4 linked regions of the Homo sapiens genome follow. The protein of the gene in region 3 interacts with the protein of the main gene of each other region in a pairwise test. Each region holds a gene or a part of one and is shown on either strand. Other genes may lie near its edges.

Evidence for each region.
Region 1: the proteins of STX11 (region 3) and GOLGA8F interact in binary tests that used the Homo sapiens proteins (3 or more experiments, as listed by UniProt).
Region 2: the proteins of STX11 (region 3) and CRYBA4 interact in binary tests that used the Homo sapiens proteins (3 or more experiments, as listed by UniProt).
Region 4: the proteins of STX11 (region 3) and AXIN1 interact in binary tests that used the Homo sapiens proteins (3 or more experiments, as listed by UniProt).

Annotation. Positions count from the first base shown.
Region 1 is NC_000015.10:28,374,556-28,381,669, forward strand, and holds the start of GOLGA8F (golgin subfamily A member 8F), read left to right. Parts: upstream 1-4,108; 5' UTR 4,109-4,206; coding exon 4,207-4,254; intron 4,255-5,951; coding exon 5,952-6,071; intron 6,072-6,656; coding exon 6,657-6,716; intron 6,717-6,899; coding exon 6,900-6,980; intron 6,981-7,114.
Region 2 is NC_000022.11:26,618,122-26,624,966, reverse strand, and holds the start of CRYBA4 (beta-crystallin A4), read right to left. Parts: upstream 3,005-6,845; 5' UTR 2,981-3,004; intron 2,383-2,980; coding exon of another isoform or gene 2,371-2,382; coding exon 2,332-2,370; intron 1,734-2,331; coding exon 1,615-1,733; intron 1-1,614. UniProt on the Homo sapiens protein: Crystallins are the dominant structural components of the vertebrate eye lens.
Region 3 is NC_000006.12:144,181,490-144,188,516, reverse strand, and holds part of STX11 (syntaxin-11), read right to left. Parts: intron 1,895-7,027; coding exon of another isoform or gene 1,890-1,894; coding exon 1,026-1,889; 3' UTR 1-1,025. UniProt on the Homo sapiens protein: SNARE that acts to regulate protein transport between late endosomes and the trans-Golgi network.
Region 4 is NC_000016.10:307,704-314,730, forward strand, and holds part of AXIN1 (axin-1), read right to left. Parts: intron 6,981-7,027; coding exon 6,840-6,980; intron 2,367-6,839; coding exon 2,270-2,366; intron 923-2,269; exon of another isoform or gene 1-922. UniProt on the Homo sapiens protein: Component of the beta-catenin destruction complex required for regulating CTNNB1 levels through phosphorylation and ubiquitination, and modulating Wnt-signaling.

The sequences.
Region 1 (7,114 bases), on a different chromosome or scaffold from region 3:
TGTGCCACCACACCTGACTAATTTTTATATTTTTTTTTTGTAGAGACGGGGTTTTTCCATGTTGCCCAGGTTGTTCTCAAACTCATCCACCTGCCTTGGCCTCCGTAAGTGAGATCACAGACATGGGCCACTGTGCCCGGTCTAGTGCGCTTTTTTTTTTTTTTTTTTTTTTAACCAAACAAACGATGAAGTCTCAGGAGTAAAAGTTGATACACAAGTAAATTTTATTGGTAATGTTTTTGTGTGGTCTTTAAGCAGAGGGAAAATTAGTCTGCATTATGGTGTATCCAGACTAAATAACTGATATTAAAATGAAATTATCCTTAGGATTTGCAATCTTAGAGAAAACTTTTTCATTTTTTTTGAGTTACAAATTATCTTCACTTACATTTGAGAACAGTGAGTCACAGAGGGATTAAGTATCTTACTCAAGATCTTCAAGTGTTTGGTTTGAACCCAATCTTTTCACTCTGCAGAACTCAGAGTCACTCTTATTTGGAAACTTTTTAACTGATGTGGATCCTCTAATATGGGCTTCCTATTATTCATTCCGTATTAGTCAGAAGTTTTGCAAGCAGGCAGAATTCATTTTGCCAATTACGGGATTTTCCCTCAGTTGCAGTCAAGGTTCATAAAACTATAACTATTTATCTTTAATTATAAATTTTGTTTTTGAGACAAAGTCTTGCTCTGTTGCTCAGACTGGGATCCAGTGGCACAGTAACAGCCCATTGCAGCTTTGAACTCCTGGGCTCAAGGGATCCTCCGCCTCAGCCTCCCAAGTATCTGGGACTACAAGTGCATGCCATCATCCCTGGCTAATTTTGTTAAAAAAAAAAAATTGTAGAGATAGGGTCTTGCTTCGTTGCCCAGGCTGGTCTCAAACTCCTGGCCTCAAGCAAGCCTTCAGCCTTGGTCTCCCAAAGGGCTGAGATTACAGGTGTCAGCCATTGCACCTGGCCAAAACTGTAACTATATATACACACACACATAACTACATATATATGTGTGTGTGTGTGTGTATGTATGTGTGTGTGTATATATATTTTTATATATAAATAGATATATCTGAAAGGCATCAAAAGAAAAAAGCTGTAACTTTTAGTCTTGATCTTGATAGTGACTTGATTAGGCTATCTGTTTAACATCAAAGATGCAAATTAATGCTTTCTTTGGGTGAGCATATTAAAAATGCAGAAAATATTGGAGTAGTTTTTTATGTTAAATAAATTGTATTCTGTGTATTTAAGGTATACAACATGATTTTATGGGATGCATATAGATGGTTAAAAAAAATTACTACAGTGAAGCAAATTAACGTATCCTTCAACTCAGATAGTTACCCGTTTTCTTTTTGTTTGGTGGCAAGAGGAGCTTAAAATCTCATTTAGCGTGAATCCCAAATACAGCACAATTTTATTACCTATATTTCTCGCGTTGTACATTATATTTCTAGGCTTGTTCATCCTACATATCTGCTACTGTGTAACCTCTGAGCTATGTCCACCCATTTTCTCTCTTGCCCCCCAAGTAATTTCCTAAAGTGTCTCATATAAAAAGGCAGTAGCTTTCAGCTTAAACTTTTTCTCTGTATATATTTAAGTCAATTTCTTTGAGGTATGTTTTTCTCTCCAGAATAGTTAGATGTAGGCATACCACTTTAATGTTGACACTAGTTCACCTAGAACTTATCTTCTGCAAATCTGTCTCTATGTCCATCTCTGTCTCCATCTTTGTCTCTGTCTTTATCTCTGTCTATCTATCTATCCATCCATCCATCCATCCATCTATCTCTCTATCCATCTATCTGTCTATCTAACTAAAGCAAATTCATGCCCTTCTCCTATTTATGGAATCGAGACCATAAACAGAGGTGAGGGAAAGAATTTGGCAGGAATTGCGATGTGTATTACCTGTGGCATAAGGAAACTTTACAGAACTAGGGTCAAAAGTATACTTTCTAGTTCTTTCCCATGGCTTTTCACTTTGATGTAGTCCTTATCAGGCAACTGAGGTTTTATATAAGTCCCCTGATTCTTAGAACATGAAGGTGTAGTATTCAAGTTTGGTCCCTTGAAACCACAATTTTTGTTAAAAAAAAATTAAGAAAATTGTATAATTTCCTCAGCAAATACATATTGATCATCTGTTATACAGCCATGAGAAGTGGTTCTGTTGAACACGTTTATTTTATCAGATCCCAATTCTAAACCAGGCATAGAATGGAAACCATGAAGGTAGGATGAAATAACTTCTGAATGTTTGAAAATAGTGTACTTAAAAATAAATATCAGGTGTTTTTGTTTTGTTTTTTGTTTTTTGTTTTTGAGACAGGGTCTCACTCTGTCACCCAGGCTGGAGTGTGGTGGTGCCATCTCACCTCATTGCAGCCTTGACCTCCCAGGCTCGGGTGATCTCCCACCTCAGCCTCCCAAGTAGCTGGGACTACAGGCACATGCCACCATGCCCAGCTAATTTTTTGTATTTTTTGTAGAGACAGGGTTTCACCATGTTGCCCAAGCTGGTCTAGAACTCCTGGGCTTAAGCGATCTTCCCACCTCAGCCTCCCAAAGTGCCAGGATTACAGGCATGAGCCACCATGCCTGGCTGAAAATACCAGGTTTTTAAGTATCAGCACTGCCTCTTCAATCTTTTCTATTACTATGTTGTGCTCAGTGGTATTTTTTATTGAATTAGAGCAGTGCTGTTCAATGGAACCTTCTTTGAGGATGGAAATCTTTTATGTCTCTGCTGTGTGGGTATGGTATTAGCTGGGTATGGGGCACCTGCCTATAGTCCCAGCTACTCAAGAGGCTGAGGTGGGAGGATCACTTGAGCCCAGGAGGCCGAGTCTGCAGGTTCGTACCACTGCAATTCAGCCTGTGTGACAGAATGAGACTCAGTCTCAGAATAAAATGAAATAAGGAAATAAAAATGTAATTGTTGAAATAAGAAACTAGTGGATGGATTAGACACGAGAAGAAAGAATTAATTGTTTAGGCGATTCTCTCCAAAAAGTAAGTCAGCATGTCACACAGAGAGACATGAGGATGGATGATAGGGCAGAAGTTGGTGGGCTTGGAGGGGAGAGGAAGATCAGAATGAGGTCCAAAATGTGTCTTAGTGAAATCCCAGGAGGAGATATTAAAATTATATTAGAAAGTGAAAGAAATAGAAGTTTTATTTATTTATTTATTTATTTATTTTGAGAAGGAGTCTCGCTCTGTAGCCCAGGCTCGAGTGCAGTGGCACGATCTGAGCTCACTGCAAGCTCCACCTCCTGGGTTCACGCCATTCTCCTGCCTCAGCTTCCCAAGTAGCTGGGACTACAGGCACCCACCACCACGCCTGGCTAATTTTTTGTATTTTTAGTAGAGATGTGGTTTCACCTTTTTAGTCAGGATGGTCTCAATCTCCTGACCTCATGATCCGCCAGCCTCAGGCTCCTAAAGTGCTGGAATTATACGCATAAGCCACTGCACCCGGCCCAAAAGCTTTGTGTTTTTACAAATATTACACATGTTTCTTGTTTAAGAAAAAAAGTCTTCACAATAACGTAGGAGAATAAGAGAAACATTTTTCCAAAAAAGAGAAGTCATTGTGATTATTTTATCTTATTGGAATGTTGGATAATATAGTCTGCTTCAGTAATCATCAAGCATGCTATGGATTTTCCATCTTCATAGGATCTGTATCTCGGTTAAGGTAATACTGGTAATTTTTGTACTCTATGAAAAATATAGGCCAAAATCATAGACCTTGCATAGAAGCTGGATCATGAAGACAGCTCTGGAGGAACACACAGGTACACACACACAGACACACATATATATAAAGTATACACATATATATTTTTTAAAAGCTTTTAAAGCAAAAGCCGGCCCTGCCCCTCTCCCAGAGTTGGCGGCCTCTCCCCTCTCTTAGAGTGGGTGGGGACAGTGGTTGCATGGGCAGCTTTCCTTGTGAGCCAAAGGTCCCTCTGGACACATGATGCCTGGCCACGCCCCCTTTCCCTTTCATCTTTCTCATTAACCAATGGGCTTGGAGCATTAAGGCCACGCCCCTATTCTGCCTTCTACTGCATCCCTGGTTACGCCTCCTCTGGCTCAGTCGCACAGCTACCTGGTAGGTGACTGGAGGTGTTGATCAGTGCTTGGTGGGATTTTGCTGATGTGGCCCCAAGCCCGCCTCCCTCCCCACCCTGCGATGGCAGAAGAAACTCGACAAAGTAAATTGGCAGCAGCCAAGAGAAAGGTAAAAACACACCAGGTCACGGACCCCCAACCCAGCCATAGATCCTCTCCAACGACAAGACTGCTGCCAGAGTCCATACCACTCCCGAGGTTCACCGGACTGGGACCCCCACACCGGTGCCTCTGGGCTACCCCCACCAAAGTTTTGTCAGTCAGCCCCACCCCTTCAGCAAGCAGCCCAGTCTCTGCCCTCACCAATCACCCCAGGGTGACTTTGGGCAGGTGAATCCTGGGGCTCCCCGCTCCTTTACTGGGCCCTCATCTCCTGCCACCCCAAGCTTGACCTCCCAGGGCTTTTTGGGCTCACATCTCCAAGGACCTGGGTCCCACAGCCCCAGACCCCACCCTCACCAGTCATCCCTGGGTGACTTTAGGCTGGTGAATCCTGGGGCTCCCTGCTGCTGACTCTTCCCTTCCCTCCTGCTGCCTCAAGGTGGACCTCCCTAGGCTGTGTGCACTGGTGTCTCCAAGGACCTGGGTCCCAGCTCTGTTTTTCCCTCCCCTATCATGGAGCGGTGACTCGGACATCATGCTGATGTGGTCCCTCCCCCTCACCAGGAAGAGTGGAATGTAGTGATGTCACGGTCCATCCAGTAACTGTCATTACTGCAAGACTGGCCTTTGATCTTATGACCCAGTCCCCTAAGCATTGCCACCCCATTTCTGGTTCCTCTTGTCACAGCACAAATTTCCAGCTGGAAGGGGAATGGAGATTGGGACCTAGGAGCAAGAGGTTTCAGGCTGCCTCACTCCCTTAGCATAAACATTGACAGCGGGAAAAGCCTACACTTCCCCTGTGAGCTCAAAACATTGACAGTACCTCTGGATGGCAACTGGAGAATGGGTTTGACTTGGTTTGGTTTTCTCCCAGGCTTCTACTTTCCAGAGAGATTTTAACAAATTTTTTGTGAGTTCTCCACCTCACATTCTAATTCTCCATGGTTCTGGGACCAGACTGCCCTTCAGCCAGTGGTCTGTGAAGTGAGATTTGCTCATCTTCTCTGGAATAGATCTTGGGAAACTGAACTTGACAGCTTGAATCTTCCTCATATTATGTAAACCTGGGGTACTTTGAGTGCCACAGGATACATATGGGACATCTTTCTGAAGCATCAGTTTCCATTGATTCTCTTGAGATCAAGAGAAAAAACATTAATGTACTTAGGGATGACAGTCACATAGGTTTCTAAGAGTATACCAGACTTCTCTCTGAAATGAGGCTTGGGTTGTCCTCTTTCTGATAAATTCCCAGATTTAACAGAAAGGCTGCCTTCTGCCATGAGGACACATTGATATAAGAGTTTGAGAGGTACTGGTGCACTTCTTCACACTAACAGACGTGTGAGGATGTATGACTAAACCACATGGCATACAGTTCCTGCCTACTTAATGTTTACTTTTCTACCTCTGCCTCTGGTTTTGGTCCCTGGCAGCTGCTGATTCTTGGTAAAACCCCAGAGTTTGGAGTCAGAAGACTGAGTTTCAAAGTTCGTCTGTCGCCTTTTTCTTTTCTTCTTTTTTTTTCTAGCCATGATATCAATCTCTTTGAGTCACTAAATGATTGTGACAACACCTTGTACAGTTGTTGGTATCATTAAATCAGATGGTGTATAAGAGTATTTTATAAAAACTGTAAAGGAGGATGTGGCTGCAGGGGCTGATAGTTCTCATGAGTATTACTGCTCTTGTTTCTGACAGTTAAAAGAATATTGGCAGAGAAACAGCCCTGGTGTTCCAGCAGGAGCCAAGAGGAACAGGAAAACAAATGGCAGCATCCATGAGACAGCCACTTCTGGTGGTTGCCACTCACCTGGAGATGTGAGTCTTGGCTGACTAGGTTCCTGGGGACAGGGGACCCAAGGGGCACTAGAGGGTAATTGTTAAGATTGTGGATGGACTGTTGGGTACCTGTGAAGAATTCTGGGTTTGAATCCTGCCTCTTTGTCTGCTAGGGATATGAATTAGGGCAAGTTGCTAGACCTCATCGGGCCTCTCTTTTCACATCTGTATAATAGAGGTGGTATTGTTTCACTTCCATTTGTGAAGTTTAAATGAGATTTGTTATTGTTGTTTTTATGTTAATCCCTAGTACATGGCCTGCTGTAAACACCCAGAACACCCAGGATATGGTCATTGCTGTTCGATTTTCCTCATCCCCAGTCTCAAGGGGAAGCCAGGACAATGAGAACAGTCACTTGGCACAGGAGTCACTGAAAGGGCCACAGGGTGCTGTGGTGGGGAGATAAGAACCATGAGAGAAGTTGGCACAAAGGAGTTATGGGACAAAGGGTCCAAGATAGGCAGAAAAGAAAATTGTGCCAGTTGATGGGGAAGAAAAGAAGTCAGAGGGCTTAGATACTGAGTGGGACAGAACATCTTCATGTGCACTCTCATCTCTTGTAGTCAGCAACAGGTATCCACGGGGAGAGCCCTACATCATCTGCTACCCTGAAGGATCTGGAGGTAAGAGGCTCTGGGCAGAGGTGCAGTGACCCTGCAGGCCAGCCCTCCAACCTCCTCCTCCAGGTGGGACGGGGTGCCCCTCTGCCAGCTGAGACAGTCCACACACACCCCAGCCCTAATGATTGCTCTCTCTACCTCTCCCCCCACTCCTCCTCCACCTCCTCCTCTCTGCATGCGCCTCAGAGCCCGTGCCAAGAACTAGCAGTAGTCCCAGACTCGAGGTCCGTAAAAGTCAGTCAACTGAAGAACACCATCAAATCTTTGGTAAGAGTCCACTGGGGTCCCCTGATTCCACGCTGCCAATCCTGGGCTCTAGTTTCCCCTTGGGGCCCTGAAGAAAGGGGACGGCGGCCCCTGGTGCCAAGGGCGAATAGGGAGCTGGGGCGCCCAGGCCTCAC
Region 2 (6,845 bases), on a different chromosome or scaffold from region 3:
CTCCCTCTCTTGTGGGAGGCTGCCACGAGGCAGCCCCTCATCTGCCTCTCTGGCCACTCTGAGATGTGGGGCTTTCCACCTCGCCTCCCCACAGGCGACAGCAGCAAGCTATCGTTGAAGCATGGAAGCAGCTCTTCAGCCACGGGGTTCCTACCATTCCTAATGCCTGTCATTCAGCCCCCTTTGTTTTGGTGTCGTCCAGTAGGACAAGGGACACAGGAGGCTGCACCTTGCCTTTACTGTCTGTATAAGTAATAAACTGTCTGAATCTATCCAAGCTCATTGTCTGCTTACTGGCTGAGTCTGTCAGCCTGCTGGACATACCCCTAGAAAGCCTCTGTTCCCATCTGACCCCCATTCCCCACCTGCACAAATCAGAAGCTAAAAGAGTATTTACTAAAGCATGAGATGTGCAAAAATCACCCAAGATGACCTCAGGTGGCACTCACAGGTGTAGCATTAAGTGACTCCAAATCTCCTATCTACTTTCCAAACTTCTACAACCTTCTATCCAATATGGTAGCTACTGGCCACATCTCCTGTCTATCTACTTTCCAACTTTCTAGAACCTTCTATCCAATATGGTAGCTACTGGCCACATTGCCTTTCTAGCTACTTTCCAACCTTCTAGAACCTTCTATCCAATATGGAAGCTACTGGCCACATCTCCTTTCGATCTACTTTCCAAACTTCTAGAACTTTTATCCAGTATGGTAGCTACTGGCCACACCTCCTTTCTATTTACTTTCCTGCCTTCTAGAAACTTCTATCCAATATGGTAGCTACTGGCCACATCTTTCCAACTACTTTCCAAACTTCTAGAGCCTTCTATCCAATATGGTAGCTACTGGCCACATCTCCTTTCTACCTGCTTTCCAACCTTCTAGAACCTTCTATCTAATATGGTAGCCACTGGCCATATGTAGCTAATTAAATTTAAACTTAAATAAATTAAGATTAAACAAGATTCAGTTCTCTACTCATGCTGGCTACCTTTCAAATCCTCAATGGTCACATCTGGCCAGTGGCTCTGAAATGGATGGTGTAGATGTAGAACATCTCCATCATTGCAGACAGGTCCACTGAATGACACTGGTCTAGAAAGTCTTGGTGTGTTATTAGTGTGTCCTTAACACCTCTCTGTGTCTCACTAATCTCTCTCTCTCACTCTCTTTTTTGTTTTTTAATTTTTTTTTTTTTTACAAAAAATGATCAGGCCACATGCTTAGCAGCAAGACTATTTAGCTAAAAATTAATAGCATTAAAACATTATGTTTATTTTTACAGTTACCTTCTACTTTAGGCGGGTGATGTTGGCTTTCAATTTACGGCTGGGAGGGACATTTTTAGATCCAACACTGGATTCTAAGGATCTCCTGCAGAACTGCCTCATCCAGTGGGCAGGGTCTGTGTAAATGGCACCCTCCTACTGTTGGGCAGTGCGCAACCTGCATAATCTTACATGGCAGTCCTGCACACTCCTCAGTACTTCAGGAGGGCACAACAGTAAGAGCCTAGGGAGAGGGGACCTAGAATATCTAAAAGTCCTAGCACCCGTCTCTAGGTCCCTTCCTGTCCACCCTCTACCCCAACTCAGTGTCCCCCTAGACTCACGCTCCACTCAGCACTTTCAAAGATCGCACAGTCTCGAAGCCAAGCTCCAGCACGCTGGGGCACTCGGCCGTGAACTCGTGCCGCCGGCCCTGGAAGCCGTCCTCATCCCACACCACCATCTGTGCCAGGAAAAAAAAAAGGTGGAGATCCGCATCAGAGTCCCGTGAAGGGTGAGAGGTTGGGGGCTCGCCCCAGGATCTGGCAGGTAAAGCAGGGATTGCAAACTCAGATTCCTCCAGGAGCCAGGAAGGCAAGAGCAGTGATAAATGTGAGACACTAGACAGCACAGGTGCCAGGTAAATGGGTGGCCTCTTCCCAGTGCCACCAATGGTTGCCAAGTGGGAATGCAGGCCAGACCTTCCAATTTCTCAAGACAATCACTAGATCTGGACTTTTATGTGGTTCTTCCAGGCTTTTAAAGGCTGATGATAAATCCAAAAGCTTTATAAAACAAACAAACACACACAGAGATGGTCAAAGAAATCATGCCCAAAGACTGCAACCTCTGCCAAAGAGTGTAACAGGTCAACTTTGGGAACCAGAAGACCCAAATTCACATTCAACCTCCCTGTATGTGACATACAAGTCCCTTCTCAACTCTGAGCCTTGATTGCACCTCTGTGAAATAGGCATTTATAATGCCCCCCTCCTAGGATTCATGGGGACCTGAACCCTCCCCATACCCCCTGAACACCCCCTCCCCATGCCTCTTCCTACCTTCCAGGGTCCCGCTGACTTTGTGCATTGCAGGGTCATTGTGGCCCCTTCCTGCAGAAGAGAAGAACATTATAATCTTCCACCCTGACCCTCTGCTCTCCTCTTTATGCAGATGGCTGGCTTGGACCTGGTCAGGATCCACATAGGGAGTCCAGGAGTGACTGGGCTAGGGGCAATGCATGGCTTTGGCCTGTCCCTCTCCTGTCCTTTCCATCTGTCACCAATGCCATCTTCCATCCTATCCCCATCTCAAAACTCACCCTTGCTGGGTCTCATTGACTCTGAGCCCCACTCTGTATTCTCTTATCTGCTTGTTATGGGAAAATTTTTGTGGCTGCTGGTGGGTGGGTGCATCACCCCAGCGAGTGCTGAAATGCTCAGCATAAGAGAGCCCTTCCAAAGACAGCACCTAGCTCAAAGAGGTAGCTCTGATGGTGGAAATTTAGGCAATAGGGCTACAGGAATAATTTGTTTTTAAATGAGGGAAGCAGGTGCTGGTCTTGATGGTTGGGGCTCATCCTTGGTTAGGATGAGGATGGCATTCAGGATGACACAGTGACATCCCTAGGACTGGGGACCTGGGTTCCTCGCCTCCCAGAATGCTCACTCAGAACTCTGATCCCACCCCTCCTCCAAACCTGGGACTTACCGAGATAGGCCCAGGGAACATGTCAGATCTGAGACCAGCCGAGGTCGGGCTCTTATAGGCAGGGAGGGAAGAGGGGCCCCTGGGAGACAAAGCCCCGACTCAGCAACTGGGCCACAGAAACAAAAGCCAGCCCTGGCTGAAGAGCCAATGGCAAGCCGTCAGCAGCTCTGGCTTTAGCAGGGAGGGAAAGGACCAGATCACCACCCCCAGGGATCAGCCACGAAGAAGGAGAGAGGTGGAATATTGGCCCTCATCAGCCCCACAAGGTTCCTGACTAGAGCAGGAGAATGAGCACTAGATGAGGAGTCCAGAAGCATCCTTCCTAGCTATGTGAGCTCCAGCGAGTCATTTCCCCTCAATTTCTGCCTATAAAATGGGGCAGAAACAAACCATATCACAGAGTTGTTGTGAGGTTACATAACATGCCTGGTACAGAGTAAACATTCAGGAAATGCCTATTCCTTTCCTTCTCTCTTTCCCCTTTCTCTTCCAGTTGAAGCAATCCAGATAGGCTTGCCGTTAGAGGAGGCATTTGAACTAGACTCTGAAGGATGAGGAAGATATGTACAGAGTGAGATGGAAGGAGAGGCATTCTAAGAAAAAGTTCAGAGGTGGGAACTTGGGGCACATGTACAAGAAAGAGCTGGTAGCCCAATTGGCCTGGAGCTCAGGGGACCTGAAGGGAAGTGAGGCAGGAGAAGAGGGCTAGGCCAGGGCCTGCTGGGTCCACAAAGCCTGAAGATGAATCCGGATGGCACTGTGGGCAGCATAGAGGAGCTGTTAGTTGCAAACATGCTTTGCAAACTGTGGCACACTTGCCAAATATCCAGGACTTGTACAATTTGCTGTGTGCCTCTTGTCCCGAAACCCTGCCCTCTGAATTGGCGTATGAGGGACCTAAGAGGTCCCTCATACATACATACTTGTGTGTAAAATGGGTGTAACAAGCATAGGAAAACAGCATGACTGGAAACCAGATCATCTGAGATGAAATCCAGCCCTGCTTCTTTCTTACCATCCGTGTGACCTGGAGGACACCTGAGTCCTGCTCATGACCTGTAAAGTGGCCACACCAGTTTCCTTTTAAGAGGGTGAAATGCAGCTCTATCAAACGCATGACTTTAGGCTGGGCGCAATGGCTCACGCCTGTAATCTCAGCACTTTGGGAGGCCGAGGTGGGTGGATCACCTGAGGTCAGGAGTTCAAGACCAGGCTGGCCAACATGGTGAAACCCCGTCTCTACTAAAAACACAAAAATTAGCCGGGAGTAGCGCGGGCGCCTGTAATCCCAGCTACTAGGGAGGCTGAGGCAGGAGAATTGCTTGAACCTGGAGGCAGGGGTTTCAGTGAGCCAAGATCATGCCATTTCTCTTGACCCTGGGTGACAGAGCAAGACCCCGTCTCAAAAAAAAAAAAAAAAAAAAAAAAAAGGAATGCATGACTTTGATGAAGGGTTGGCATGAAAATGAAAGGTTAACAATGCACCCTCTACAGCCAGACTGCCTGGGTTTGCATCCCACTGGTGCTGGCTGGGTAACTTTTAAGCATGTTACTTACGCACTCTGAGCCTCAGTTTACTTGTGTGTAAAATGGGTGTAACAAGGTAAGTTGGGATTAGTCTAAGAAACAGGGGGATTGTGAGGATAAATGTGAATAGCACATGAACAGCAGCTGGAATTGCTCCTGCAACATAAAAAATATTGTGGTATTTCCATCATCTTCATCATCACCATTGCTAATAAGAAAGATGATTATTATTAATTGTTGATCAAAAAGCAGGGGTGCATAGTTTTTAAGAGCCTGGGTTCATGAGTAAAGAAGATGTGAGTTCCAATTTTATCTTACATTTCCATTTTTATGAGAAAGTGGCTGAGAGAGAGGAAGGAAAGGGAGTTGCTTCAGTTTCCTTATCCGTAATTGGGGTTAATCCCAGAGACTTCATCCTTATACTGAGGAGTACAGGACAATGCAAAAAAAAAAAAAGAAAAGAAAAAAAGAAAAGAAAATAAATTGGCTCCATAAGACAGGGCAAAAAAGAAAAAGATATAATGAAGGATACAATAATAATAATAAATGCTCAGAGTGGAGCCACCAACATGGTGGGCCATCCCCCTTCTCTGCCCCCACCCTCTGGCAGACAGCCCATTCCTGGGGCTTTAGGGGGGGCACGGAACTGCCCCAGATGACCTGGCTTTGAAGCCTAGACTGGTGGGTGGGCCCTCACCACAGGCGTCTTGGCCCCAGTTCCAGTGGCTACCCCATCTTGCAGTTCCTGCCCACACCCCACCCACCAAGTCTTGGCCCAGGATGAAAGGCCAAGGAGAGGCTAGGAAGCGAGGGGGTGCTGGGTGGTGGAGGGACAGAGGCAAAGCTGGCTCCAGGCCAGGGAGAGTTCAAGACAGAGCTGGGCTCCACGGGGAGCCTAGAACCCCGAAAAAGAAGAGACAGGAGCCTATCCAGATGCCCCCGCAATATACCCTGCCTGGGACTGGGGAGCCGACTGCAGGTGACCTAGCTGAGCAGCTCCCCAGGCTCCTTCTGACCCCAGCTGTACTGTGAGTTCCCGCCATGTGACTATGTTGAAGTCATTTGTTCCACCTGGGCCTCGGTTTCTCCATTTGTGAAATGGGAGGATTGGGCCCTGTGATTTCTGGCGTCTGTTCCTCCGTCCTGAGGCTTGATCACCCCAACTTGACCTCTGTCTCTCCGTCTCTCGCTCCTTCACTGTCCATGTCCCCTGTGCCTCTCTGTGTCTCTGTCTCCACCTCTCTCTTTGTCTGTTACTTCTATCTGCCTCCTTACTTCTCTCTCCTTGCCTTGGTTTCCCTATCTCCTCCGTACCCTACCTTCTGTTCCGATCCATTGGAACCACCATTGAGTCACCAGTTATTGACTGAGAACCCATGATGTGCCAAGCTCTACCTAGCCAGGCCCAGCTAGGTGCTGGGGCCAGTGGTGAACAAGATGTGGTGGGCATCTGGGGCTTGCCAGGGCAGGAGGCTCTGGGACAGGCAGTCATATTTCTGGCCACCAGCACTGTCCTCCAGGTCAGATAACGTGGCCTGGGTAGAGGCGGGGAACTGGGGTGGCGAGAGGGATCACTGTCGATAGGTCAGGAAAGGATGGGGCCCAATGTGGGGAAAAGAAAAAGACCCAGGTCTCCGATATCCAACCCAGCTGAGCACAGTGCGACTCTCCCATTCCCACCCCAACCTACAAAGAGGAAGTCAGGCCAGGGGGCCTCAGGCCAAGGTCAAGGCTGGACAGCAGGAGAAGAAAGCACACAGGCCCAGAGCTGGCTGGCCTGGGCTGGCTCTGACCTCTCTGTGCCTTCACTTTCCTCTTCTGTGAAATGGGCATAATGAAAGTACCAAATAAGGCAGATTGTCCCGGGGACTGACCGAGATAACACGGGTTCGGCACACAGTAAGCACTCCGTAAAAAAGGCTGTCCATATCAAACCCACATCTGCCTTTACAAAACGCTTCTGTGCTCATTGTCACCTTCTTTTCTATATGGCATCCAACAGGGACACGTGCCCACCTTATAATTGCAGACACAGAGGCCCCCCTAGGGGTAGAGACCTACCAAAAGCCACACAGCGCGCAGTGGCTGAGTCAGGATTCAAACTCTGGTCTCCTGCCTCCCAGGGTCTCCCCTTTTCCCTGCCCCATGTTGGCAGCCAGCAGGGACCCTTTTGGGGGCCCATCCCTGGCTGGGGTTGTTGAGAAAGGAGTCAGGGTAGGGTTGGAAGGTGAAGCTGCTGTGGCCAGGGTTTCTGCTGTGTGTGCTGGTCTCACAAAGGAAAGTGCTGCTGTCTGCAGTGATCCAGGCGAGGTCAGGGCCCCAGTCCCCCACTCCCTGC
Region 3 (7,027 bases):
CCGTATACATTTTCTACCGCCATATGTCTACCGCCATAACCAATGCAGAGTTGTTTAACATGAAGTTTGACCCAAACTGGACTAGGAAGGGGCAAACTGGAGTGAAACAAACTCAAAACAAGCAAACCAATACCAAGAGCCAGAAAAGTGTTCGTCTTGAAATTTATATACCATACTTACATAAAAGAAGTTAAACCAATTGATCATTATGTACATATATTAGTGAATATTAGTATTTTACATTTACATACATGTGCATATGTAATCAAGTAAAAATATAAATGTTAAATAATTTTTATCAGCGAAAAATACACAAAACATGACTGATACTTCAATTTGAGTGCTTGTTCGATATTCAGTGCTTAAAAATGTTTGGAAAAATAATACCAAAATATAACCTGGTGAAAGATATTTAAAAAGTGAAAGAGATAAGAAAATAGTAAGTGTTTGGTGTGATTTTAATAAGTAGGGGAAATGAGCAGAAATAAGATCTATATTTGGGGAGGAATTGCATAGCGTAGACCGGATGAAGAATCGGAAAGGAAGAACGTGGTTTTTCCCAAGGCCAATTTCGCTCAAAATGGAACAGAACCAGGGAATTTTCAGGACAAAGTAAATGAACTGAAGTTTCCATCATGAGTTCATTCTATTAGCAGATGCCCAATTGACTTCCTCCTTGAGTCTTTATTAGGAGGCAGGCCTCAGACATTCACCCTACAGTCAGATACAACTTCAGTTCCTTACTTGGCTTCTGTCAAGACGGTAAGAGTGCAAGGTGTCATATAATGACATTGCACAACTTTGTGGGAATCTATCTTTACTGAAGAATCATCGGACGGTATCAACTAACCATCTTTCCAAGCACAGGCTGGTTTGCAATTCTTGAACCTGGCGTTTCTTTTCTAAAGACTGAGTTCCGGAAAGGGTTGGGGCAACTCCCTGCAGGGCAGAGCTCCCGGCTTTGGTGCGTCCTTCCCAGCGCGCTCCATGGTCTGGGATGGGCGGTGGCGGCCCGGGCCGGCCTGCTACTTGAGGCAGGGACAGCAGAAGCAGCAGAGGGTCCGGCAGGGGTTCTTCTCCTCGTACTGCACGGCCTTCCGCACCTGCGCCTTGGCCTGGCCGGTGTAGTCGACCGTCTTTTGTACGTTGAGCTCGATGACGTTCAGGGTGTCGGCCTGCTTCTCCACCAGCACCGCCATCTGCAAGAAGAGCTCGTGTACGTCGCGGATGCGGCTCTCCAGGCGCAGCAGTTCGCGGTGGCGGCTCTCGATCTCGTTGAGGGCGGCCCGCGCGCCCTTCACGTCGGCCAGCAAGTTCTCGGAAAACACGTCCCACTTACCCTGCTCGAACATGTCCTCGATCTGGTCGCCCGAGACTTCCTTGCCCATGATCTCCAGCTGGCGCTGGATGCGGATCTTGCAGTTGTCGCGCTGCTTCATCTCGGCCTGGTTGTAGTCGTGCATGGCGCGCTGGAAGGTGAGGGTGAGCGCGTTGTACTGCGCCCGCGAAATGCGCGCCACTGCCGAGTGCGGGCCGTGCTGGGCCTCAGCCGCCTCGCTCAGCTCCTTCATGGCGCGCAGCTTGCAGTGGATGACCTCGCCCCGGGCCTTGATGGCCTTGGCGATGGAGTTGGTGTCGCGCTTGATGCTGCTGAGGCGCCGCATGGACGTGAGGAAGCGGGCGTTCTGCTTTCCCAGCCGCTTCACGTCGGCCACCAGCAGCTGGTTTTCATCCTGAATGTCCCGGATGTCTCGGTACAGGGACTCCAGGATGTGGTCCGTCTCGAACACGATGTCCTCGTGGGGCGAGTCAAACTCATCGTCCCCGTCTGGGAACTGCTGGTCATATTGCTTGGACAAGTCCAGAAGTTCTGCTAGCCGGTCTTTCATTTTGCCTGCAAGTAGAGATAATGAAGTTAAATTTCTCTATTGAGAGTCAAATATTTGCCTTCAAGGGATTGAAACTTAAACATTTTACTCAGCAGTCCCAATTTTGTATTCCTCGGTGTGGGCAATAAGTGCACTAAAGGAGCTAAATGTTCTGACATTTTGCTTACAAGGAAAGAAATAAGATGACTGAACAACATGAAACAGTTGTGTTTTAAGGCCTATAGGCACCTGCAGTTCAATATCATAGCCGCGCAGAACTCAATGAGCAATTTAAAATTTTATTTATTTATTTATTTATTTATATATATTTTATTATACTTTAAGTTCTAGGGTACATGTGCACAACGTGCAGGTTTGTTACATATGTATACCTGTGCCATGTTGGTGTGCTGCACCCATTAACTCATCATTTACATTAGGTATATCTCCTAATGCTATCCCTCCCCCCTCCCCCCACCCCACAACAGGCCCTGGTGTGTGAAAATTTTAGATTGCATTGGGAAACCATCTCTTTTCATTGCTTTATGTTTTCCAATCATTGCAAATTAAAACAGACACAGAAAAAAAAAAAAAGAAAAAAGAAGAAGAAAGACTTGCAAACTTAAGTATTTTTAATTGAGGATAATCTACAAGGCTTTGGGGCCAACATCTAAATGTTGCCTATTTTGTGTCTATTTCGGCACTGGGAAGCATCCCCTCCTGTACACACTAACAACTCTTAAAACAGTTACCATGCAAATCATGATTTAAATTTTTTTCTCTTGAAGATGTTGTAAAAGTAAAACATGCTTGAAGTAAAATGACAACAAAATACAGAAATCTAAGTGTAAAATTTAGAAGTTGAGGTTTCCTTACTCCTCTTCTCAATATCATTCCCTAATGATAAGCATCGTAAATAACACTGCTTTTTAAAATGCTTTTATGTGGAAAATTCCAATCATACGTGGCCTAGTAGCAATACTACAACACACTCCCATTCATTCATCATGTAGCAGCAATGTTTGCCCACTTTTAATAGCTTTTTGAAACAAGTTGGCAGCTCAAGCAGAATGTTCATGTTTTTACAAGGATGGTTCTGGTAATTCCTCTGCTTAGTAAGGCAAAGTAATAGTCTCTATGTTCATATTGCTTTTCAGTGAAGTGAAAAACTTTCATTTTTAGTAGCATGTATATATGCTAATATAGGGAATATCTTGTGTTTATACACAAGACTTCATGATGAGAAAGATTCTTTTTCTACTACACAATTTGCAGCAAAGAGGGGAAAAGTAGTAACACTTAATGGTTACGCAATCTATCAGGGTTCTTGGTCTCAAATTAAAAGCTTCTTTCAAGTTGAAGTAATTAATTTTATATCACCACTAATGGAATGCTGACAAGTTGGATTTGGTGGTAAATGGAAAATGGTGAAATATTAACCACGGCCTTTCATCTACCATGATCATTATTTACATAAATTAAGCAGAAGTTTTATTCTATGATGGTGATTTTTAATGTAACAATGTAAGCTGCTTAAAGTGCCATTTCTGATATCTGGTGGCTATAATCAATACCAGACCTTCTCACGGATGGGGAAGGTGATTCTCCTAGCAGTATGGTTGACAGGCAGAAAAAAGATCCACCCTGGACCAAAACTATGCCTTCACCTGGTCTGAATTTCTTGATATTCAACTGTTTCCTCACTTTGAACAAAATTGAAAGACAAACCACCAACTGGGGAGAAATTATAATATATGACAGACAAGAGGTTAAGATACTTAATATATATATTTCTAAGCTACCAAAAAATCTACTTACCCAAAGACAGTGAAGCAATTCAGAGAAGATGTAAATGACAGAGAACATAAACGTATGTTATATATGCCTGATATTTTCTAGGCATCTTTCATGTGATACCCTCTTTAGTCTTCATACAGATTCTATGAGTAGGTACTGCCATTATCAGAGTTGGTGTGAGCATAGGGAGATCAAGGAATTTACTCAAGGTCATCAGTAAGTGAACACTCAGGCGTTAGAATAGCACCACTTAACCAATGCACTAAATAATCTTTAGCAAAAGTATAAAAATATAGTCACAAAAGACTTCTGTATTAAACAAGGAAATGCAAATTAAACTGCTGAGAATTTTCTTGCCCATAAAGTTAGCAGGAATTTTTTAAAAACAATACTTTTTCAAATGGGTAAGGATTCTGGGAACTCTCAAAACATACTGGTAATTCCATCTCATGCCAGTCAGAATGGTGACTATTAAAATGTCAAGAAACAACAGATGCTGATGGTGGTTGTGAAGAAATAGGAATGCTTTTACACTGTTGGTGGGAATGTGAATTAGTTCAACCATTGTGGAAGACAGTGTGGCAATTCCTCAAAGATTTAGAACTGGAAACACCATTTGAGCCAGCGATCCCATTACTGGGTATATACCCAAAGGAATATAAATCATTCTATTATAAAGACACATGCATGTCAATGTTCACTGCAGCCCTATTCACAATAGCAAAGACACGGAACCAACCCAAATGCCCATCAATGTTAGACTGTACTATACAGCCATAAAGAGGAATGAGATCATGTTCTTTGCAGGGACATGGATGAAGCTGGAAGCCATTATCCTCAGCAAACTAATGCAGGAACAGAAAACCAAACACTGCATGTTCTCACTTATAAGTGGGAGGTGAACAATGAGAACACCTGGACACAGGGAGGGGAATAATGCACAGTGGGGCCTGTCGGGGAAGTGCGGGGGAGGGGAGAGCATTAGGGAAAAGAGCTGATGCATGCTGAGCTTAAAACCTAGGTGATGGGATGATCTGTGCAGCAAACCACCATGGCACATGTTTACCTCTGTAACAAACCTGCGCATCTTGCACGTGTACCCCGGAACTTAAAAACATAAAATAAGATAAAATAATAAAATCAGTATTATTGTTCAGGGTCTTGAGACCTCTCTCAGCTTCTGCTGAACTAAGCAAGTACATTAAATTTTTTTTCTAGATTAAAAAAAAGTCTAATTTAAAACTCCTGTGGTGTCTTTGTTTTTGCAACTTAATGATTTTGCAAACAAAGTCTATTCATTATTTTAAAAAATTGGTAATTGATAGAATCTTTCTGGAAGTCAGTTTAGTAATATGTATCAAAAGCTTTTCAAGTGTGCATTTGTTTTGACATATGTGCATTTATTCTAAAGATATAATGCAAAAGTGTATGAAACTCATTGCTCAAAATATTTTCATCACCACCTTGTTTTTGCAGAAATTCAGAAATAAGTTAAATGCACAATAATGAGGTCCTGGCTTCTACATAAGTCACAGAGTTTAGAAGGCTATCTAATGGCATGAAAAGCATATATACTCTGTTAGGCATAAAAAGTAGTTATGGAGAAAGAGAATGTGCAGCATTCTGAAACAGAAACTTGAGTAATACACATCAAAGTGTTAATTATAGTTTTCTTTGAGTTGTGGAATTATACATGGTTTAAATTGCTTCCTTTTGCTTTTCTGTATTTTCCAAAATTTTTATAATGTCCACACACATTTCATAATTTAAAAACCCCCATAAAACAATAAATACTATTCGTTTAAAGGACTAACTCCTTAGCAACTTTTAAAAGTCTATGCATGGCAATCAAGTTAACATTTTATGCTACCTGGGGAAAGCACATTAGCTAGTTTGCGTAGAGTTGAGCTGTACCCATCTGCTTAAGTTAGTACCCAATATAGTCTACCATGCAACAAGTGGATGAGATGGAATGGATGCATTTTGATGAACAAGGCAAGAATAGGTGAGAGATGCCTTCCTTCCTTACATGTTGGCCAAGCCTTACAAGGCACTTCAATGGAAGGAAATGGGTAGATAAGGGACTGTACCACGCCCTGGGACACTAGGGATCATTTGTATGTATCCTGCTTATCCTAGACAGGTCCTGTGCTCTGTATTGCTCTCCTACAGCCATTAAAAAGCTATTGGGGGAAATCATCTCATCACAATAAGAAGAGTCAAGTACAATTCAATCATATAGAAAATGGTTTTGGAAGATGTCCAGGGACAGTCATTCCTTCTCAAGATTGAACAACCATAAAGTCATAGATAGCAAATTATAAATCAGGTAAGGGCCCAAGCTCATGTGAAGGCGCAAGTCCATAATGTGCTAATAAGAGAAAAAGAAAGGGTACAGGAGACATAAAGATTCTCTATTGAGGTGTGGTAAAGGAGGGAAGGGGGCCTTCACCTGGCCTTCCTGCCCACCTCTCTTGGCTCAGCCAGCCTTGGATGAGTTGTCTCCACTGACATAGAAGGTCTCCTGGTCACCAGGGAGCAAACATTAGGAAAACTACAACAGAAAGTCAACGAAGAGACTGCTATTCCTAAGAATGTCTCCAAAAAGGTTAAAAGTGTATACACTACTGAAGTTATACAAAAATATAGAAGTGGGCACAAATAGAGAATCAAAATAACCTATATATCCCATAGCTTGATTCTGTACTATGAGTTCCTAGAAAGAGAACTATGGTAAATGAGAAAGAAAAATCAGACAATTCCACTGACCTTCCTGTCTTATTGTAATAAAAGATAATGTAATAAACTTTGGTAAATTGCATTCATCAAGTTGCTAAAAATAAGTCCTGCTTCAATTTGCATGGAGGTGAAGAATTCAAAAGAAAATTGACAACCAACTACCAAAAATCTGCTTCTGCTTTCTAATTTTCTTTTCAGGCATGCATATAATCTGTACTGAAAACCAGATCCAATAAGGAAGGAAGGGGGTATTGCTTAAGCCTTTTTTCATTGAGCAATAAAGTTTTGTGTAAGAGAAAACAAAGGAACAAAGAGATGATGGTAGCTCAGTGGTCCTCGGTCTGCAAGAGGTGACAGAATCTTCTGGAGAGCTTCAAAGATTACAGATGCCTGGGCACCTAGAGTTTCTGATTCGGTAGGCCTAGGATGATCTCCAGGTGATTATAATGCATACTCAAATTTGTGACCCATTCCATAGATACCTACCATGTCAGCTTTTTTTTTTTTTTTTTTTTTTTTTGAGGTGGTCTTGCTCTGTTGCCCAGGCTGGAGTGCAGTGGTACTATCTCGGCTCACTGTAACCTCTGCCTCCCGGGTTCAAGTGATTCTCCTGCCTCAGCCTC
Region 4 (7,027 bases), on a different chromosome or scaffold from region 3:
CCCCTCCTGCTGTCCCTGCTGCAGAGCCATGGACTCACCAGAGAAACGGCATAGCTTTTGCAAAACCAAGGCCCTCAACAGAGCAGAAGTGGGCAGTGCAACCACGGCACGTCCTGCTAGCTTATCGGCTTCCTGGGCCTCCCCCCGCCTCTGCTCACCACCATCCTCGGGTCCAGTTTCCCAGTAGCAGCAGTGAGCAGGCCCCGGGCAGCTGTGCCCGTGATGTGGGTTTCTCACTTGGGCCTCTGGCTGAGGGACCTCCCACCGAAGGTTCCAACCACAGCCCCACCTGACAGGCCACATGGACCTGATGCAGGTTCCTACAGAGCCTCCGATGAGGTTGTTTGCTGCAGACTGTTCACACAGAAACGCACACTGCGGCCCCCACCCCACCACACAAGGGCCCTCTGGGGGTGCGGAACGCAGCAGGGCCTGCTCCTGTCTGTGCCTGCCGCCTCTGTTGGCTTTCATCTTCCTGGCGACTCAAATGTGACCCTCCAGGACCTGAGGGCTCTGTGCTTCCCTCGGTTCTGGAAGGTTCTGACGACGACACCAGGGACTCGCCATAGGCATCCTCTTTTCTCTGTGTTGCATCCTGAGAGGTCTTTCCAGGTCCACGTTCCAGGCACCAACGCACTCCACAGCTTCTGTCCTTCCTGACCCTTCTGAGGGGAGGTTGTCTGCCTGATGCCCCCTCATCCAGAGTCTGTGGCATGCACTTTCTACACACGAAGACTCTGACCAGCACCCCAAAATCGGGGCACCCCTGTGGACAGAAGCCTCCCGCGGGCCTCAGCCCACTCAAGCCCCGTCCTCATGGGCACAGAGGGCTGTTCCGGGCCTGTGGTTGCTCAGCTGTCTTGTCTCTCGGGCCTCCGTCATCCCAGCGGCTCCGCGGGTTCTTGACGTTCAGGACCTGTGACTTGAAAATCAGAGGCCGGTGGCTGTGCAGGTGCCCTCGACTTGGGCTGTGACCTCATGATAGCCTTGGGCCATGCCTGGCAGGCAGGGCCCCAGATCTTCCACAGCACAAGCACGCACACACGCACGCACCCACACACAGCCTACAGTGTCAGCCACTTTTTGTTAAGTAGACACCATCAGTGCCTAGTTTTAGCCAAACCTGAGTCAAGGGTTGGCTGGCATCTTCTCAGAAGTGATAACAAACCAACATCCTTTCTTTTCAACCATAAAGAAATTCCTGACTTGGAAACTGATGTCTGCAGAAAAGCTAAAAGGCTAAGAAATCCTGACCAAGACTGTGTCAGTGCTCTCAAAATGCCTACTTCCCTGCACAGACACTCAGATGGTCACGTGGTTTAACCTCAGACACCGCGGCTAACAGTGCGTTGCGCAGTGGCTCACACCTGTAATCCCAGCACTTTGGGAGGCTGAAACGGGCGGATCACGAGGTCAGGAGATCGAGACCATCCTGGCTAATACGGTGAAACCCCATCTCTACTAAAAATACAAAAAATTAGCCGGGCGTGGTGGCAGGCGCCTGTACTCCCAGCTACTCGGGAGGCTGAGGCAGGAGAATGACGTGAACCCGGGAGGCAGAGCTTGCAGTGACAGCAAAACTCCTATCTCAAAAAAAAAAAAAGAAAACACTTTTCTCATCTTCCCGTAACATCTTTCCTGTTCAAAGTCAACCCATCAAAATAAGGAAAGATCATTAATCTGTTCATCAGCGCAGGAATGCTCTGTAGACGGAGTCAGGCTGTGCTGGGCTCCAGCTAGCACTCAGCTCCATGACCTACTGCCCAGCCAAGCCCCCATGCCCGAGACTGGGCAAAGGTGCCATTATTCTATGCAACAGCGAAAGCCAAGGCAGCTTTAAAGTCAAGACGTTTACCTGGAGACGACCACTGTTCAGCCACAAAAACACCAAGTTTTCCCCAAGGGCTGTGCAGGGGCCAGGCCTGGGCTCTGAGTCTTGAGAAAGGCTCAGAGCTCCCCCTCTTGAGGGGAAGCATCCACCTTCACAAGGCAAGACACTTCCTGCCACCAGGGAGGGTGTGGCCTTGGGGCATGGGGGCTCTTCTGAATGAACAGCTCCCTCTGGGCCCTAAATGCTGCCTGAGACTTGATGTCCCCTGCTGCCCTCAGGGACTGGCCACTTGCAGATGTTGCTGGGATCACACGCTTACGCCTAGAGGTAAGCCTGGCTCGTGGGAGGCCAGGCAAGTGCCTTTCCCGCGGACCAGTTCACCAGGCCCACGCTGAGCGGGGAGGACGATGGGCTGAGGACCGCAAAGCCGGTACTTACGGGAATGTGAGGTAGGGGCACCCGCCCATTGACCTGCACGCTCTCCTGCATCTCCCTGCGGTGCTGCTTACGGATCCTGTATGGGGGGATCCCATCCCTGTCCAGGAGAAAGAGGCAGCCGTTAACTCAGAGAGGAGCAGGAGGGCCAGCACCGTGCCAATAGAGCTCCTGGCCCCGACCGCCGGTCAGCAGGCAATGATGAGGACACCTGTGAGCCACCACCACTGAGACACGTGCACACAGGTGATGCAGGCACCCATGTGTGCACAGGGGAACATGTACACACAAAGGTTCACACGTGATGGTAAAGCCCAGGTGCCCAGCCACGCGTCTTCCTAGCTGGTATTTACTGGGCACCTCCACAAAGCCTCCTTGTGCCTGCCTGTTCTTTAGGGCCTGACAGCTAAGAGTGGTTTCTACATTTTTTTTTCTTCTTTTTTTTGAGATGGAGTCTCGCTCTGTCGCCCAGGCTGGAGTGCAGTGGCACAATCTCGGCTCACTGCAAGCTCCACCTCCCGGGTTCACGCTATTCTCCTGCCTCAGCCTCCTGAGTAGCTGGGACTACAGGTGCCCGCCACCACGCCCAGCTAATTTTTTTGTATTTTTAGTAGACACGGGGTTTCACTGTGTTAGCCAGGAGAGTCTCGATCTCCTGACCTCGTGATCCGCCCGCCTCGGCCTCGCAAAGTGCTGGGAGTAATTACAGGCGCAAGCCACGGCGCCCGGCCAAGGTTTCTACATTTTTAAAGGGTGGGGGAAGAATCTGTGACAGGGACTGCATGCGGCTGCAAAGCCTCACATATTCACTGCCAGCCCTGCACGGGAAACGTTTGCTGGCCCCTGCTTGTGGCCTAGACCACTGTGCAGTGTGCCTGCCTTGGAGGGCATTGCTAAATGGACCAAAAACATTTCAGGATTGCACAGTGGGCAGCCAGGACAACCAGTGCCCCACGGAAAGATAGGAGATGCCAAGGCTGCACACTCTGCTTCTCTCCAGGAGCTGGCAGGGCAGTGTGGTCTCTGAGGGAGGCACAAGGTAGCTCTTTAGCAACAGGTTTTCTTTTATTTTTTTCTTTTTGAGACGGAGTCTTGCTCTGTCGCCCAGGCTGGAGTGTAGTGGCGCGATCTCGGATCACTGCAAGCCGCTCCCGGGTTCACGCCATTCTCCTGCCTCAGCCTCCCGAGTAGCTGGGACTACAGGTGCCCGCCACCACGCCCGGCTAATTTTTTGTATTATTTAGTAGAGACGGGGTTTCACTGTGTTAACCACGATGGTCTCAATCTCCTGACCCCGTGATCCGCCTGCCTCGGCCTCCCAAACTGCTGGGATTACAGGCATGCGCCACCGCGCCCAGCCCGCAACAGGTTTTCTTTATGAACCCTTTAGAAGATCATTAAAACACGAAAGTCAGATTATACATGGTCTGAATAATTACCCCAGGGTTAAGATAACTCACGCACAACCATCCTTCATGAAAGCCCTCGCCCTCTCCCAGCTATTAGAAAAGCTGCCTTCGGGCTGGGCGCAGTGGCTCATGCCTGTCATCCCAGCACTGTGGGAGGCCGAGGCGGGCGGATCACGAGGTCAGGAGATCGAGACCATCCTGGCTAACACGGTGAAACCCCGTCTCTACTAAAAATACAAAAAATTAGCCAGGTGTGGTGGCGAGTGCCTGTAGTCCCAGCTACTCGGGAGGCTGAGGCAGGAGAATGGCGTGAACCCGGGAGGCGGAGGTTGCAGTGAGGCGAGATTGTGCCACTGCACTCCAGTCTGGGCAACAGAGCAAGACTACGTCTCAAAAAAGAAAAGGAAGAAAGAAAGAAAAGCTGCCTTCGGAAGCACGGCAGCTCCAGGGATCCGTGCCGCACCCAGGGGCCTCTCAGAGCTGCCAGGAGACACAGGACGACTGAAGAGAGCGCCCGACCCAGGGCTGCGTGGCAGACACGGCAACTCCTGAGGCATCCTCGGCTGTCACAGCACCACTGAGTGTTGTGGGCAATGGTGAGCCGAGTCCAGGTCTGGCTCAGCCACGGTGGGCGTCAGGAACAAGTGAATCTAAAACTCACCTAACACTTGCCTCGGGGTTTGTTGAAGTGTCCTGAAGCCACCAACCTACTGGTTTCTTAGACATGATACTTGGATTGGGTAACCTCCACAGGCCTCCGTGGATTAGACACTGACCCCACATCTGTGTCCACAGCCCACAGCCTCTCGAGTGCCATGTGGAATGTTGTGAGCTTGCCGCCAGCACAAAAGCTGAGGGCAGCTGCCCCACCGGAATGATGCTCTTCACCTGTCCACTTTTTACCTCTGATTTGCTTTCGAGTACGTGTAGCAATTTCACATTCCAAATTGTTAAACACTTCAGTACAAACCAAGATGAACAGAATATCAAGAAAAAAAATACCTATTTATTTTAGGTCCTCCCTTTAGGAAACATATGTCCCTTTTCTTGGAGAGAATTAGGAGACTTTTTGAGAAAACTGAGTTGGCAGGTTACTTTTTGTTGTAGTAACAGAGTTTTGGGGAAGAGGGAAACCAGATGCTAGGATGCATGTCAGGCGCTCCGTGGGCTGCACTGCACCCAACCACCTGGCCCGAGGCTTCAGGACCACGGCAGGCACTGCTTCAACTCCAGTAACCTCAAGTCAGGTGCTGCTAAAATCACGTCAACATTTTATTTTGAAGATTCAAAATTAAACGAGGATGAAAGAAACCAGGAGAAGCCACACACAGCAGCTCTGCCCGGAAGGGGCAGGGAGCTGCCCCTGCACTACCACAGCTACCTGGGGAAAAACCAAGGGGCCAAGACCTACGGCAATGTGGGCTGGCTGAATCTGGTTCAGAAACAGAATGTGACAACTTGTTCTCCTCATCTGAAATTCAGGTTTTGGAAAAATGTTTAAAGACAGGCAAATGAAAAGAACAAACCAGCCAGGCACAGTGGCTCATGCCCATAATCCCAGCACTCGTGAGGCTGAAGTGGGTGCAGTTTGCGCCCAGGAGTTGGAGACTGCATAGTGAGGCCTCGTCTCCACAAAAATAATCATCATCATCAGCCGGATGCAGTGGCTCATGCCCGTAATCCCAGCACTCATGAGGCTGAAGTGGGTGCACCGTTTGAGCCTCGGAGTTCGAGACTGCATAGTGAGGCCTCGTCTCCACAAAAATTATAATAATCATTAGCCAGGCGTGGTGGCGCACGCTTGTAGCCTCAGCAACTCTGAAGGCTGAGGCAGAATTGCTTGGGACCAGGAGACAGAAGCTACAGTAAGCCAAGATCGCACCATTGCAGTCCAGCCTGGGTGACAGTGAGATCCTGTCTCAAAATGAAAAGAACCATAAAAATGGTACATACAGTGGGACCATCACTTAAAACATATTCATAAAAAGATGGGCAGAATCACCAGTAGGTGAGAAGTCCCTCTCTCCTCCTCCAGCCCTATCCAGATCTCCAGGCTTTCCTCATGGAGAACCCAGCTAAGCGGGAAAGACATCTGGGACACCACTGGCCGCAGTGGGGATGGAGGGTGGTGGTCCGCGGGCTCCAGCTGCTCACAAGTTCATAGCCGCTGGCTTCCTCCAATGCTGAGGCTGCTGCAGGGAGACCCTGGTTCCTGCGGCTCGGCCCCAGCCCTGGCTAGGATGGCTGGTGGGCAGGTGGCGTGTGGCGCACAGACCAGAGCTGGGAAGGTCTGAGCTTCATGGGTAACCAAAACCCCAAATGACCCCCACAGGCTGGCAGCCAGTGCCCTACTGCAACAAGACTGTTGGCATCATCTAATGGCTGGGGTGTACATAGGTCCCAAAAAGCCAGCTGCGAAGCACAGGGGAAGAGGTCATAAAACAAGCACGTTCCTACACATGGGGTTTCCCTGGACAATGAAAGAATAAGCTTCTGCCTGTCACCTCGAGCGTCACACATGTGTGGCCCAGGCCTCAGCACAACCACAGCATCTTCCCTCACTCCTGCTCCCAGCCCCTTGCCAAGTGGGTGACAGGGACAAGACAGGACCCTGTACTGCACCAGCGTCGGCAGAAACGCCACCCTCAGGGACCACATCACTCGCCACAGCCAGTGGTGAGGCAGCTGGCCTGTGCCTGTCTTTAAGCTGAAACCCCAGACTCTGAAAACCAAAGAGCAAACTCTAGCCCGGGCAGCCTACAGACTGTCTTAGGTTCACCCTCGATCCTTCCTCATAGGGAGGTCCCAGCAGCCCTGGTCACAGAGAGAAGCAACCGACACAAAGCTGAGCCCTCACTTGTACTGCTTGGAGGACAGCCTCTGCGGTACAGCCTGCCTGCATGTCCAGACGCACTCTCACTGAGACCTGGGGAGCCAGGAAACACTTTTCCTGAAGACAAAGCCCAGGCATCTCTGGGTCAGCACGAAGCCCCCTCTGAGCTGGCCGCGCTCTGCAGCAGGGTGGGACTTACACGCTGCCATCCGCAAGAAACAGGGTGTCTGGGGCAGGACTTACACATTGCTGTCCTCAAGGGACAAGGTGTCTGGGACCGGACTTACACACTGCTGTCCGTGAGGGACTGGGTATCCGGGGCGGGACTTACACGCTGCTGTCCGTGAGGGACAGGGTGTCTGCATCGCTGGACAGGCTCTGCTGCTCGCTGTCGTTGGCACTGGTGGCTGGGGCCAGGGCATAGCCGGCATTGACATAATAGGGGTTGACTGGCTCCCGCCAGGATCCATACCTGCAAACAGGCAAGCAGGGCATGTTAGTGACAGCCTGCCAACAGCC